Homo sapiens: one gene and its partner. The protein of the gene in region 2 interacts with the protein of the main gene of each other region in a pairwise test. Each region holds a gene or a part of one and is shown on either strand. Other genes may lie near its edges.

Region 1 (7,028 bases), on a different chromosome or scaffold from region 2:
TAGGCTATTTGGTTTAACTAGGTACAGTGGCAAAACTTGGGATACAAGAGGAGCAATGGACTAAAAGTCTCCTATATATTCCCTAAATATTGTCATTTGGGTTTTACAGAAATACATGTATGCACCTTGGTGAAAGAGTCTCATAATGCAAATTCAGGAAACAAAAAACAGAAATCATGTCACCTATTGGAGATGCCCTACCTTGTTCATAAAGCTGTGCTTTTTATGGACTTTTCTATTACTATGAATTTAAGATCAGGACACCTTCTGGAACAATAAATATTCTTCAGAGAAATTGCTGAATTTGAGCATCAAAGCCACACAACAGACTCAATAACAATTTGATATATTTGTCTACAGATTAATTTAATGGTTACTTAACTCATTGGGTTTCTAAAATCTAATGAAAATGAAGACAGTATTGATCAAACATTAGATTTATTAGATTTATCTTTCATAAAGCATGGCCTTTTATATCCAACTCTGGAGATTTTATGATTTGAGATAATTGGTACAGACATACTCTGAAACCTCTCTTATGTACACCAATTCCTACCCAATCACACCTAACTAATTAGATTCACAGATCACAAACACTAACAGCCTAGGCTTTTATGGCGCCTTCTCAAATAAGACAAGAAAAAAATGGTTTCACAAAATTTCGAAACTGCTCACATACATAGGAAATAAGAAAATGGGAAAGGCATACATTGTAAATGTGTGCGTTATTTCTAGATGTAACAATTAGAGCAAGGTGAAATAGAATAAAGTTTAAAAATCATTGATTTCTAATCTCCACCCTATCAGTAATCTAATGTCAACATAATCTCATCTGTCTATAACATCCACCTGAATATGAAAGCTCTTGGTACCATCCACCAGCACACAAATAAACATATCCAGTACAACAAATCCTTATATTTCACCTAAGCATTTTCATTCTCTGATCTTTACTTTCAAGGACTGCAATTTGTTAACCATTGATATGAAAATGGTATTCCTAGGTAGATCCATCTGTTTCCTTTTGATTTAGAGAATGCCATTGTTACATGCCATCTCAAGCAGTGACTGGTGCTTCAGTTCACAACTTAAATAACCTCATGCCCACTTTAGTAGCGACAGAAAGAAAACAAATATGAACGAGATGCTGGTTCTCACTGGTGTTTACTCATATCACCTTTATTTTCTGTGACATGGTACCACGTGGTTCTGTGAGCACTGGACTCACAAGATATTCCTTATTAAATAAACAAAGAGAATAAATACTTCAGGAAGATGAAAAGGAGAAGGGGAAAAAACAAACGAGCAAACAAAACCCCCTTTGACCTGACATTATGGAAAAAAATAAAAAAAGACACTAAGATGGAAAAAAAATAGTGTCATGGTTTACATGTGGGATTTTGATGGAGTCTAGGGCTGTGTTTTAATTCAAAACTCACCATCTCAAAACCACTTCTTTTCATCCGCCTGCAGGACTTGAGGTAAGTACGTATACGTTTTCTGGCACGCTCTTGATACTCAGGGAATTGTCGCCTGCATGAGTCAATGATAGCCTGGATCTTTTCTTTGGGCTGCTTAGAGATTGGGACCATTCGGTCCAAGTTTTCATCTACAAACAGCCTGACAAACATCTGTTGGCAAGAGGGAGACAGAGGAGAAGGGTTTGGAGGGCTGCTCTCTTCTGTTCCTAGCTTCCTGTCTTGATTACCGATAGGAAAATACTGTTTTCTGGTTTATGCACTGGAGAACTTTGCAATGGAAAGCCAGAAATTTTAAGCAAACACTCTTTAAAGACTTTCTAAATGGTTGGATTAAAAAATAGAGAGAAAAAGAGAGAAAGGCAGACAGACAGACAAACATACAGAAAAGAATAGACTATCGTGTAGAAAAAAATCAGGAAATAACAGAGACTGTGACAATTGAGCACCCCTTTACAATCTCTATTAATGATGAATACGACTGTTACATTGCTACACTGCACAGTGGACTAATCTCTGAAATCAAACAACTGACTCTTTTGTCATGCATAATTAGATAAGCTAGGAAAGCAAAAGAAATAACAGATGACGGGCGTACTCTTCCGAGGACTAAGCTGAGGCCCCCTCCATCCACTAGGTAAACATGCATACTCACACAACACAACTCCAGTTTTCAGCTCACATTTGGCTTTAAAATTCTAAACAAAACACAGCAATTCTGGTGTCTGGTTGGCAAAGAGTGTTTCATGTACTTTTTAAATCCTTCTGTAAATTAAACAAACATGTCTCTAAAATATCCACATTTACCAACAAGCAACAACATGAAAGTGAAGTGGTAAAAATTAAACCACACTTGGAGTGTGGCAGGACTCACATTAAAAGCTTTCAGCCGCTCGGCTTCAACGCCGTCTGTCTCATTAACTTTCTCCGAATCGTCATGGTCCTCGTGGTCATCTTCGTCCTCATCTCCCCTGTTTAGTGAGAGGTCCTCAGCTCCTCGGTCTACACTCTCATTTTTGCCAGAGTCATAGCTGGAGTAACTATGTGCAGGAGACTGAAAAGAGAAGGTGAAATAACTGCTTTTAAATTCATTGCACAAGCTTATAAGTTTTATGTTTCATCTTTAATTTCAACTGTTTCTCAAAAATCTTGTTTATGAGTTGATAACTCTAGAGCTGTGGTGATTTTAGTTTAAATAAAAATTAATTCAAATTAAATTAAAATTTCATTTCCTTGGTCACGTCACACTAGTTACATTGCAAGTACTTGTTAGCTGCATGGAACGTTTCCTTCACTGCAGAAAGTTTTATTGAACTTAGCTATGCAAGAGCAATTAGTGTTTCCTCTCAATACTCATATTCCAAATAAAAAAGCAATCTGTAATCGATTTTGCAAGGGAATCATTGAGTCACATATTCTTAGAACTTAATATGACCTCAGAGCATTGTCAATATTAGTACTAGTATTACACTTTATATAATATTGTATTATATCATATCAGTATTATGCTAACTTTATTAGTATTCTTTAAACAGTTATGGAAACTGAGGGATGTTCAATTAACTTACCCAGCAAGAGCTATACAAAATATTATTGACTATTAGTTATTAGTTAACATGCTTTAAAATAAATGTATTAATTGTCTATGAGTCTTAAGAGGTCATCTGATTTGGGTTTAGAAAATGGGAACCGGGTTTCTTCCTAATCCTCTGTTAAGTTTAATGTTTCTGGATTCTAACACCATTCAAAAGACACAACAAATTTAAAGCAAGAACAATTAAATAATAGTGACACATATTTCCATGTAAAAATAATTAAACATCTGAAAAATTGAAAATGTTTAACAGTTCATTTTCACATGAAACAGCTGATAGATAGCCTTCGTAGAGCCTCCGTTGTCAGAATACAATGCATAAGTATATCTACATGTTAATGGGGCTGTTTAAAATAAATAAACTGGCTTTGATCACTTTTCATTTTGGGATTACACTTATTCCAAATATTTTCTCTTGGGACCCTCTAGGATTATTCCAGAGTAAGTTTGGAAGAGTGACCTGGAAATACAGAAAATCCAAGTATATGGTGTGATAAGGAGCTTGAATCAGCCATGTACAGCATAACCACAAACTATTTTATATACTCTTTGAGACCATAACATTGATCAATCTTCTTAGCATATTCTAGGTAGTTTTGATAAGATACTAAACTAAGATGTAATCAAATTTAAAAATGAGTATTCTCTATTTATTTCTGTTTCATGATATAAAAGATATTTTTTGAGACATCACATACAATAAAGCAAATAATGAAGCAAGTGAGAGGTAAAGAGAAGAAATTAGTACTTAGAACAACTGCATACCTAGTCAATTGGTTCCCTTAAGCTTCATAGCAACCTGGTGAGAAAGGATTATCCTCCAGATTCTACAGATAAGGAAACAGCTTTAGAACATCTAAACAACCTCTTCTTATCTAAAGAATGAGATTATATAACTACTGTGTGAACCTAGGTCTGCCTAAGAGCTAAGAGTGATCACATAAGGTTTTCTCCTCGATATGAAGTTTTTCTTTCTAAGTGTGTGTGTGTGTGTGTGTGCGTGTATGCACATGTGTGTATAATTGAAAGAACATAAAATATGCATTGGTTTATGTACATGTTAATCTTTAAACAAAATATTTTATAAGTGATTTCCCCTAAAACTGCTATTCCACCTAAATAAATTGGATACATTATTTACATTTTCTTATAGAACAGTAAGCTGCAATTTATAAATCTTGAGTAAGAAGAATTATCACTTGCTATAAAATTTCCACATATAATAGAATCTATTTAAATAATTTATTAGTGCTTCATACACAGTTTTGCTTATTTGTTTTGCTGGATAAAGTAGAATAAAGATACACTATTGTAATCAAATGCAGATAATTACAGTTTCTTAAATACAAAACATCTATAGAAGGAAATAGTGACAAGCTTTCTTTTTTCAACTTAGGACTAAACATATTCTGGAATATATTTATTTTAGGAAAAATATATATTTAAGAGAATAAACTCTTAATAAACAGCAATAACATACAACTTTTAAGACCAACATGGTTAGTAGTAATTTCTAAAATCTCCTGCTCCAACTCCAAGTATCTATCTCAAAGTCAATCATTTCTTCCCTCAGCAAACCTTTACATTAAGTATCACTACACATTTGGTTTTGTGCCAAGATACTCTGCCACAGAGCAATTTTCATTCAACAAAGTATTTATGGGCAGCTATTATGCATCAGGCACTATTCTAAGCCTTTTAAATATATGACTCATTTACAATGAACTGGTTAAGTGATTTTCCCAATGTCACATAGCTAGCAAGTGAAAAAGGATCTGAACCCATGCAGTTTGGCTCTGAGTTTATCATCTTAACACTATTCTATGCTGTCTCTATAGCATGACTACTTATGAGGTTATTGTTATAATATCAGTAGAAATCAATTCCTAAGGCACTGTATTTCTTGACACCAACTTTTAAAATAGAAGTACCTCTGTGACAAGACATATTAAACCCATTTCATTATTTAACATCTAACTATGAATTTCCCCTGAGCCAATCTAATAGAATATATGTATTTTATATGGGCTGGAGCCTATTTAATAATGTTTTGTATTAATGAAGCATCTTAAAATTTACATGGAGCTTTAACCTTGACATAATAACTTCACAGAAGAACTAGTATTAATATATTAATATATTACATTATAAATGGTTTCAAATATATACATAATAATAATAAATGATATTAATATATCTGACAGTTAGTTTTATGTGTCAACTTGACAGGATGACACGGTGTCCAGGTATTTGGCTATCCATTATTTCCAGGTGTGTCTGTGAGGATACTTCTGGATGAGATTGGCAGTGGAAGTGGTGGATTCACTAAAACGGATTGTTCTTCACAGTGTGTGTGTAGGGTGGGTGAGGGGAGGGCCTAAGGGCATAATCCAGTGTCTTGAGGGCCTGAATAGAATACAAAGCAGAGGGAAGGAAAATTTGCCTATTCTGCCTGACTGCTGAGCTAAGAGACTTACTGAGAATTCTGAGTCCCCTGGTTCTTAGGGCTTCAAACTTGAACTGAACTCCACCACTGGCTTTCCTGGATATTCAGCTTGCAGATAGCAGATCATGGCACTTCTCAGTCTCCATAATCTCATGAGCCAATACTTTATTCTATATATTATATATCTTATTGATTCTGTTTCTCTGGAGAACCCTGAGTAGTAATTATATTATTCACATTATCAATGACTTCATTAAGGCTCAGTTAATTTAACTTGATGAGATAACCTCCGACACTGAGAAGAGTGGTAGAGAAGTTAAGTAGAGGCCATCCATTCATCACTGGGCTGGTAACACTACACAGGATTTCAGCATTGGAGGATCATGGGAGTTAGCAAAAGAAATGAAAATGTTGAGTTTTGGAATCTCAGTGGATTGCCAAAGTAGAAGGAGAAAGGCAAGTGTGTAAAGGAAGATGAATGCCAATCCAGACAATTTTCATTAACTTCTATAATTGTGTCCAAGACCAACCACGGGGCCTGTTATGGTATCTCCTACTTGTTTGCTGGCCCAGCACCTTTTTCTTTCAGAAATGGCCCCTCGCTCTACCAGGTAAAATTGCCAATCCCTTGGGTACCAACCTTCTCTATGCTAAGCATGCATCTTTGCCTCTACGTGAGATGGCTGGCCTGAGTCAAATCAAGCTGAATCCAGCAGAGCTAAGGAGCATAGAGTCGTGATAGCATCATTTGTGCATCTAGATCTCACTATTACTGAAATTAAGCCCTGGACCCTTAAGTTGTATAATACCATACATCCTCCACCCACCCACATGCTTTTAAATTTTGCTTAAATTTGAGTTTCAGTCACCTGAGATTGAATCTGGAGTGGCACAGCCACCAATCATTAGAAGCCAGATTAACAATATAGATTTCACACATGATCATTCAAATATATAGATGGCCCCAGCCAAATGAATAATACTATCTTTGTAAGCAGCAGGAGATATTCTCGAATCTACCAACAAAGTAAAATGATAGTGAATAACCTTTATGAAGGGAAAATTTAAATTGACAGTGTTCAAAACTGCCTCCATGCAATGATAACATATGTGTAGCATGCTTTAAGGATCATACTAACATATCATAACTATATAGTCAGTGGAGGAATAATAAAACTAGAACAGATCTCTGACATTAACAGTAAAGTTAAATTTTAAAAATCAGCATAATATCTTTACAGTTCACATCATTAACAAGGTGGAATTAGCTAATAAAATATATTAAGGAAAATATTCCATAGGTTTGAAAAGTCTATCTTTTTAAATCTAAAATGTAATAAGCATAATATATTTTGAATGGCAATGTGAAATATTTAAAAATGTTACAATATGGTTATTTGAATGCAAATATTCTGGGCTAATTCATTCAATGCAGCTGTTTGATGGACACAGAACCAGTTGGAACAGTAAAAAATGTATAGCCCTGTTTACTCAAGTTTTAAAGAACGTG
Region 2 (7,028 bases):
ATAGTATAGTTTTCAAAGTATTTCTTTTTTTTTAGTTTTGTAATTCACAATACCATCATTCTTAATTATTAAGCTCTGTTTGTTTTTCCAGATCTTTTTACACCCTAAACATTAAGTTACACCACATATATCTTATCCACATTCAGTAATTTAGAACATTTTCTACTCAGGAATGTTTTGCAGCAGTTAACAAATATTTTATATTGTTCTCTTAAGCAAAATTGCTAAATCTAAAATTTTTATAAATGTTATTTCTAGTGAGTTATTCTCTTAGAACTGTGACTACAACTGGGTTTTTTTTTTAATCTCTGCCTAGTTCTCCCAAATAGGCTCAATAGTGTAGTTTTTGAGTATTTGACAAAATGCATATATTATTTTGTCTGTTGAGCTACAGAATGATTTGGCATGCTCTAAATAGGACTATAATATAATTATAATTTACATTTTGTTGTTTTGGGTGAGAAAGAATTCAAGACGGTTCTTAGTATTATAAGCATAAAAAGGGACCCAAGATGCTCCCTAGGATAGGATGCCTTCTAGAAAAGGTGGAGGATTGGGTTGCACCAACCATCTTCAGTAAGTTATTAAATTTATTTGTCTATTACTTACCCAGGCTGATCATTGTATTGTAATTCTGGAAAAATCTTTGTTCACTTTTGTGTCTTAATTGTTTAAATAACTTTTTTTTTTTAATAAAAGGGATGGAAAAAATAGAGTGAAGTGATAAGGAACAGAAATTAACTATACAATAGATTGAAGAAAAGAACATACATGCCACATACATGCATATATAACTGGAAAGGGTTATCTTTTCAGACTTCACATTTTTTTAAAAAAAGTTGATTTTTCAAATAGAATTCTGAAGATCAAGACCTACTATTTGATAGCACAATAGGGTGACGATAGCCAATAATAACTTAATTATATTTTTAAAATAAAGAGTGTAATTAGATTGTTTGTAACTCAAACAATGCTTGAGGGGATGGATACCCCCTTCTCCATAATGTGCTCATTTCACATTGCATTCCTGTATCAAAACATCTCATGTACCTCATAAATGTGTATACCTACTGTGTACCCACAAAAAATTAAAATGAATTGTGAAGCCTTTGCTTATGTTTTAAAAGTGAACTTGGCTTTCAGAACCATAAATTTGTTGATGTGTCAATGAATTAGGCCTGGACTATTCCTCAGTGCCTTTAGAAATGAGTTTGATTTTGTCTGTCTTCTCCTTTTCATTAAAAAAAATTCACATCCAACTTTTTGGTTAGTATTGATTGTGGTTAAGAATGTGTTTCTTTGGGTGGAAAAAATGTTGTTTGATTGAGCTATTAGCTCTTCACTCTGTAATTCTTTCTCAAGGGGTATTTTTCTTTGCTGTTTGTAGAATTATGGCCAGGATGATGTCAGTTTGTACAGTTTTTCTCTAGAAGCGTGTAAATTTAAAAGTCATAGGCTGGATTTGACCTAGGAGGCCAAGTGCAATACTCTTAGTTTTGGTATTGCCTTATTTGGAAGCAAAGTCTATACCATCTGGCCTCATAAAGCCTTCTCTAGCTCTGTGGTCACATGATTCATAAAAACCAAAAATCTGCTAAGTCTCTTGTAATATAGTCCTTGAAAGTATCACATGTAGATTTCATCATAAATTTAAAATGTGTAATAGTAGTCTCTTGTAATATAATCCTTAAAAATATCAATTACAGATTTCATCATAAATTTAAATTTATAATAATTTTGATCTGCTTATTTGGGTAAAAGGCATATATCCTGTCTACCTTTCCTATTTTGTTCATATGTACGTATATACATACATATGTATTTAATTTTTATTTTTTAGTGTTAAATTGAAATACTCTGATGTCCAAACTGCCGACGATGTTGCCATTCCAGAGGATTTCTCAGACTTTTCCCTTGCAAAAACAATTAGCAAAATTGAAGGGCAACTGGAGGAAGAAGGCTTACCTGAATATATAGATGATATTTTTTCTGGTGTTAGTAATGACATTGGAACAGGTAGATTTTCTTTAGTTTTTTATTTTTATCTTTATAGCACAGTTACTTAGAAGAAGAAATCTTGGGGAACTATTTCTTCCATTTAAAAAAATGTATTGTGATGTCTTGGTTTGTTTCAGAATTATCTAGTAGGATGTGGTGGAGGGAGGAATGAATGGGATTATAGATTAAATAAAATTGGCCATGGGTCAGTCATTGTTAAAGATAGGTGGTGGGTAAATGAGGTTCATTGAACTCGCCTACTTTTATGTTTCATATTTTCCATTATAAAAAGTAAAAATAAAAAAGACTATATTGTACTGATTTGATTGAATACATTTCAACTTAAGTTAAAATACCCATTGCTTATTGTTAAAATATTAAAAAAGTTTTTCTGAATTTTTTCATTTACTGTTAATATATTTTATTTATTGCATGTTAAATCAACACATGCAAAAGGACAAATGAATTGACATTGCATCAGGTAAAACAATCAAATGAGTGTTCTAATGAATATAATTTTTCTTCTTATTAACTCATTCTTTGCATATCACTAGAATAATAATACTAAATTTTGATCAACTGAAAACATTAGTAAATTTATGAGGAGCCTCCTATGCTATTGAAACAAAAAAGTAAGACAATTGAGTATATATGAACTAGTTACTGCTGAACTATAATACAATTAATTGTGACTACAGGCAAGCCACTTAGCCCCTCTGTAATAGCAGTTTATTCATTTGAAAATTTAGTAGTTTGTATTAGATGATCATTAAGTTTATGTATTAGTCTGTTCCTGCACTGCTATAAAGAAATACCTGAGACTGTGTAATTTATAAAGAAATGGTTTAATTGGCTCATGGTACTGCAGGCTGTATAGGAAGCATAGCAGTTTCTGCTTCTGGGGAGGCCTCAGGAAACTTCCAATCATGGCGGAAGGCAAACAGGGAGTGAGGCATCTCACACGGTGGGATCACGAACAAGAGACGGGGGAGGTGCTACATGCTTTTAAACAACCAGATTTCATGAGAACTCACTATCATGAGGACACTACTAAAAGGGATGATACTAAACCATTCATGAGAAACCACCCCCATGATCCATTCACCTCCCACCAGGCCCCACCTCCAACACTGGGGATTACAATTCAACATGAGATTTGGGTGGGGACACAGATCCAAACCATATCAGTTTATCTTTAAAATTCTCTGATTCTGTGAAAAATCATAATTTATATGTATAATAATTATTGTGTTACTAATCACAAGTAGGGAGCAGTTTTCTTCTGCACTTACTATATTTACTGATCTAATCAAGCTTTCTAGGGCTAGTTATGGTAAGGGAAGGTAAATGGAGCAGTAAGTTGCCTTTAGGTCTCTCTAAGATGCTTTAGAGGATGTGATGCACAGGCATTGATTGTTCCTCGGTAGAGGAACATGGTCCCATGTCCCATGGCCCTGTTAGAACTTTGCCTCCCTGTGTTCCCTTTTTAGTATCACTGGCCTAGGTGTCTTCTCTTTTGGGAGAATTTTCTCTTATTTTAGATGATTGCTTGGAATGGTTTGGTTATGTGTGGGAGAAAAAGACCAAGAGGTAATTTGGGAGCACAGATTACTTTGTAAGATTAAAGCTAGGGTCGAGTGGGGAGCAGAGTTTAGTACTGTGGGCCTCCAGACATGGGAGCACTCTGCTCCTTGAGTTAGAGTTGAGGTAGAGTTACTAAGGTTAGAGTTAGGGAGAAAAAGAAATGGGAAAAGTCATGCTTTCCTATTTTTTCTTCCCTCTTTCCCTCAGAGGCCAACTACTGTCAACTTCACCCTTTTTAATTTGTCATTTCCCTCTACTCCCTACTCACCTGGAGTTACATGAGAGGCTGGTAGGAGAGTTGAGGCCAAAGAGACCTAGGTAGGGTTAGAGCCAACCATAATTCATCAGCTCCATGATAACACTGAGGGCACTTAAAAAAGCTGGAAGTGTGTATGGAGATGTTTTATGCTCTGCACGTCACATGTGTATGGCTTAGTGAGATTTGTCCTAATGACTTCTCAGAGCAGTTCCAAGTGTTTCCTCAAGATAAATTCCATGATGGTAAGGGTTGTTTTATAATATTCCTACTATGCCATTTTGAACAAATCACTGAATGACTTATGAGTGAGTTCTAAGTTCAGTTTTCACTTTATTTACTTTATGGGCCTATAAACTTCAAAGATTTACTGCTGATATTATTGAATAATGAACTTTTGCTGGCAGTAAAGTACCAAAGATAGATCCTGAAGGTTTGTGGGAGAAAGCTTAGACAGTAAGGTATTAGTGTATTTCTTTGCTTCAAAGACACATATACTACATTTTAACTGCTCAGAAATTGGGATCTGTGTTACAGTCAGTGGCATTTTGTAATCACAGTGGCTGCACTGAAGCTGAGTTTTGCTAGAGAAGATTTATGTTTGTTTCTGCCAAACTCTCAGGGACATTACTGACCTGAGAACACTTTAAATAATCTGATGTAGTTTGGACCACCCTGGTGCGTGTGAATTTAGTCTGCAAACTTATGTGAATACTACCTGTGATTTCTTTCTGTTGAGTGGATTTATTCGTCATTGACCTTTTCATTAGGACTGTTGAGTACCTATAGTGCCCCCTAACAGATATCTCCTATTTGACTCCCCATCTTGAGTATTTTCTTCTTTATAAAGTAATGGTCTGTCTTACAATTGATGTCATCTTAGATTCAGCAAAAGACAGTAAATATAATTATTTAAATTCACAGAAGCACAGATCAGATTTCTAAAGGCCAAACTCCATGTTATGCAGGAGGAATTGGATAATGTTGTATGTGAATGCAATAAAAAGGTAAGTTTTAAAAACCTCTTAAAAGGCTCTAATATTCAAAGATATTTTAGGAGCAATTTCAATTACATTTTTTGAATTACTTTATTTAGATATAAATCATAGTTAAATTTTGAATTCAAAAATTGTATATAAGTACTGAACTTTATTCTGAGATGTTGAATTTTCACAGAGCTGAAATATCTTAAATTCTTGCTACAATTAGAATTCTCTATATTAGTCTTACAAATGTAGTGTAAGCTATTAAATGCAAATAAAACATTTGACTTCCATTTTTGAAGATAAAAATAGACTAATTTGTTTTTCATGAAACGTGTATAAATATCAAAGAACATATGAAACGTCTTTTTTTCTGCTTTGTTTTGATAACAAATCTTACATATTTTTTCACATAATCTATAACTTTATAACTATAGGAGGATGAAATTCAGAATTTAAAGTCTCAAGTAAAAAATTTTGAAGAAGATTTTATGAGACAGCAGCGAACAATTAATATGCAACAGTCTCAAGTAGAAAAATACAAAACTCTTTTCGAAGAAGCAAACAAAAAGTATGATGGATTACAGCAACAGTTGTCTTCAGTAGAAAGGGTAATTATTTGGTATTTTTCCTAACTTAATGCCACAGATACAAGAAAATTATTAAGGTTACACATTTGTATAGATGCCATTTTGACAGTTCAGTTATTTTATTAGTATTTACTGAAAACTCTTTCCCCTTACATAGAATATTTTTAACAACTTTATTGAGATGTAATTCACCCTTTTAAAGTATGCAATTCAATGGCTTTTGGTGTATTCATAGAATTGTGCAACTATCACCACAACCATTTTCATAATCCCTAAAAGATACTTCATACCCTTTAGCCACCACACCCTGACCCTGCTCCCCTCAATCCCTTACAGCCCTAGGCAACCACTATTCTATTTTATGTCTCAATAAATTTGTCTATTCTGGAAATCACATATACGTGGAATCATATAATATGTGGTCTTTTGTGACTGACTTTTACTTAAGATATTTTCAAGGTTCATTCATGTTGCAGCCCCTATCAGTATTTTATTTCTTTTTATTGGCAAGTAACATTCTGTTATATGGATATAACACATTTAATTTATCTGTTTATCAGTTCGTAGCTTTAGGTTATTTGGGTTGTTTCTACTGTCTGACAATTTTAAATACTTTGAATATTCATGTACAAGTTTTTGTGTGCACGTATGTTTCTATTTCTCTTGGTTATATAGCCAGGAATGGAATTGCTGGGTCATATGGAAATCCTATGTTGACCTTTTGAGGAATTGCTGACTGTTTTCCAACCTGCCTGTACCATTTTACATTCCTACCAGTAGTGCATGAAGCTCCTAATTTCTACACATCCTCACCAACATCTGCTAGATTATCTTTTTGATTATAGCCATACTGCAAGTGTAAAAGGGTTACCTCATTGTGGTTTTGATTTGCATTTCCCTAATAACTAATGATGTTGAACATCTTTTCATGTGCTTATTGGCATTTGTATATTTTCTTTGGAGAAATGTCTGTTAAGGTCTTTGCCCATTTTTTAAATTGGATTTGAAAAAATTACTGAATAATAAGAACTTTTAAGTTCTTTATGTGTTTAGATACAAGTCCCTTATCAGGTATATTTTGCAAATAGTTTTCCCCTACAGTGGGTTGTCTTTCACTTTCTTTATGGTACTCTAAAGGCACAAAAGTTTTAAATTTTGATGAAGTCCAGTTTATCTAATATTTATTTGGTTTCCTGTGCTTTTGGTGTCATATTTAAGGGGAGAATGTATTTTAAATAAACTATCCTAGCTTATATTAGTGTGCCATTGTGAAAATAAAAATATACTGTTTGAGATTGCTTTGTAAAATGTAGTGACGATAAGAATTATGTAATATAGCATATCCCGAGATTTAGTAAGAAAATGTGCCCCCTTTATTAGTACCCTTACATTTCTCGTTTGTATGGTCATATTTAAAAACCCTGCTTTTTAAACATTTTGGTCTTGTATAATTAGCTTTATCTTGTAATAAATTTTAATATCAAAATCACTTAGACAAAATTTATATGCAGTAAATTCACACTTTTTAGTGTACAATTCTATGAGTTTTGACAAATGTATGCAGTAATATAACTATCACTATAATTGAGACATAGAACAGTTCCATCAGCCCCCCAA

The links.
Region 1: the proteins of TEX9 (region 2) and NOL4 interact in binary tests that used the Homo sapiens proteins (3 or more experiments, as listed by UniProt).

What each region holds. Positions count from the first base shown.
Region 1 is NC_000018.10:33,955,887-33,962,914, forward strand, and holds part of NOL4 (nucleolar protein 4), read right to left. Parts: intron 2,533-7,028; coding exon 2,353-2,532; intron 2,244-2,352; exon of another isoform or gene 2,134-2,243; intron 1,632-2,133; coding exon 1,440-1,631; intron 1-1,439.
Region 2 is NC_000015.10:56,389,403-56,396,430, forward strand, and holds part of TEX9 (testis-expressed protein 9), read left to right. Parts: intron 1-1,840; coding exon 1,841-2,016; intron 2,017-4,762; coding exon 4,763-4,845; intron 4,846-5,258; coding exon 5,259-5,432; intron 5,433-7,028.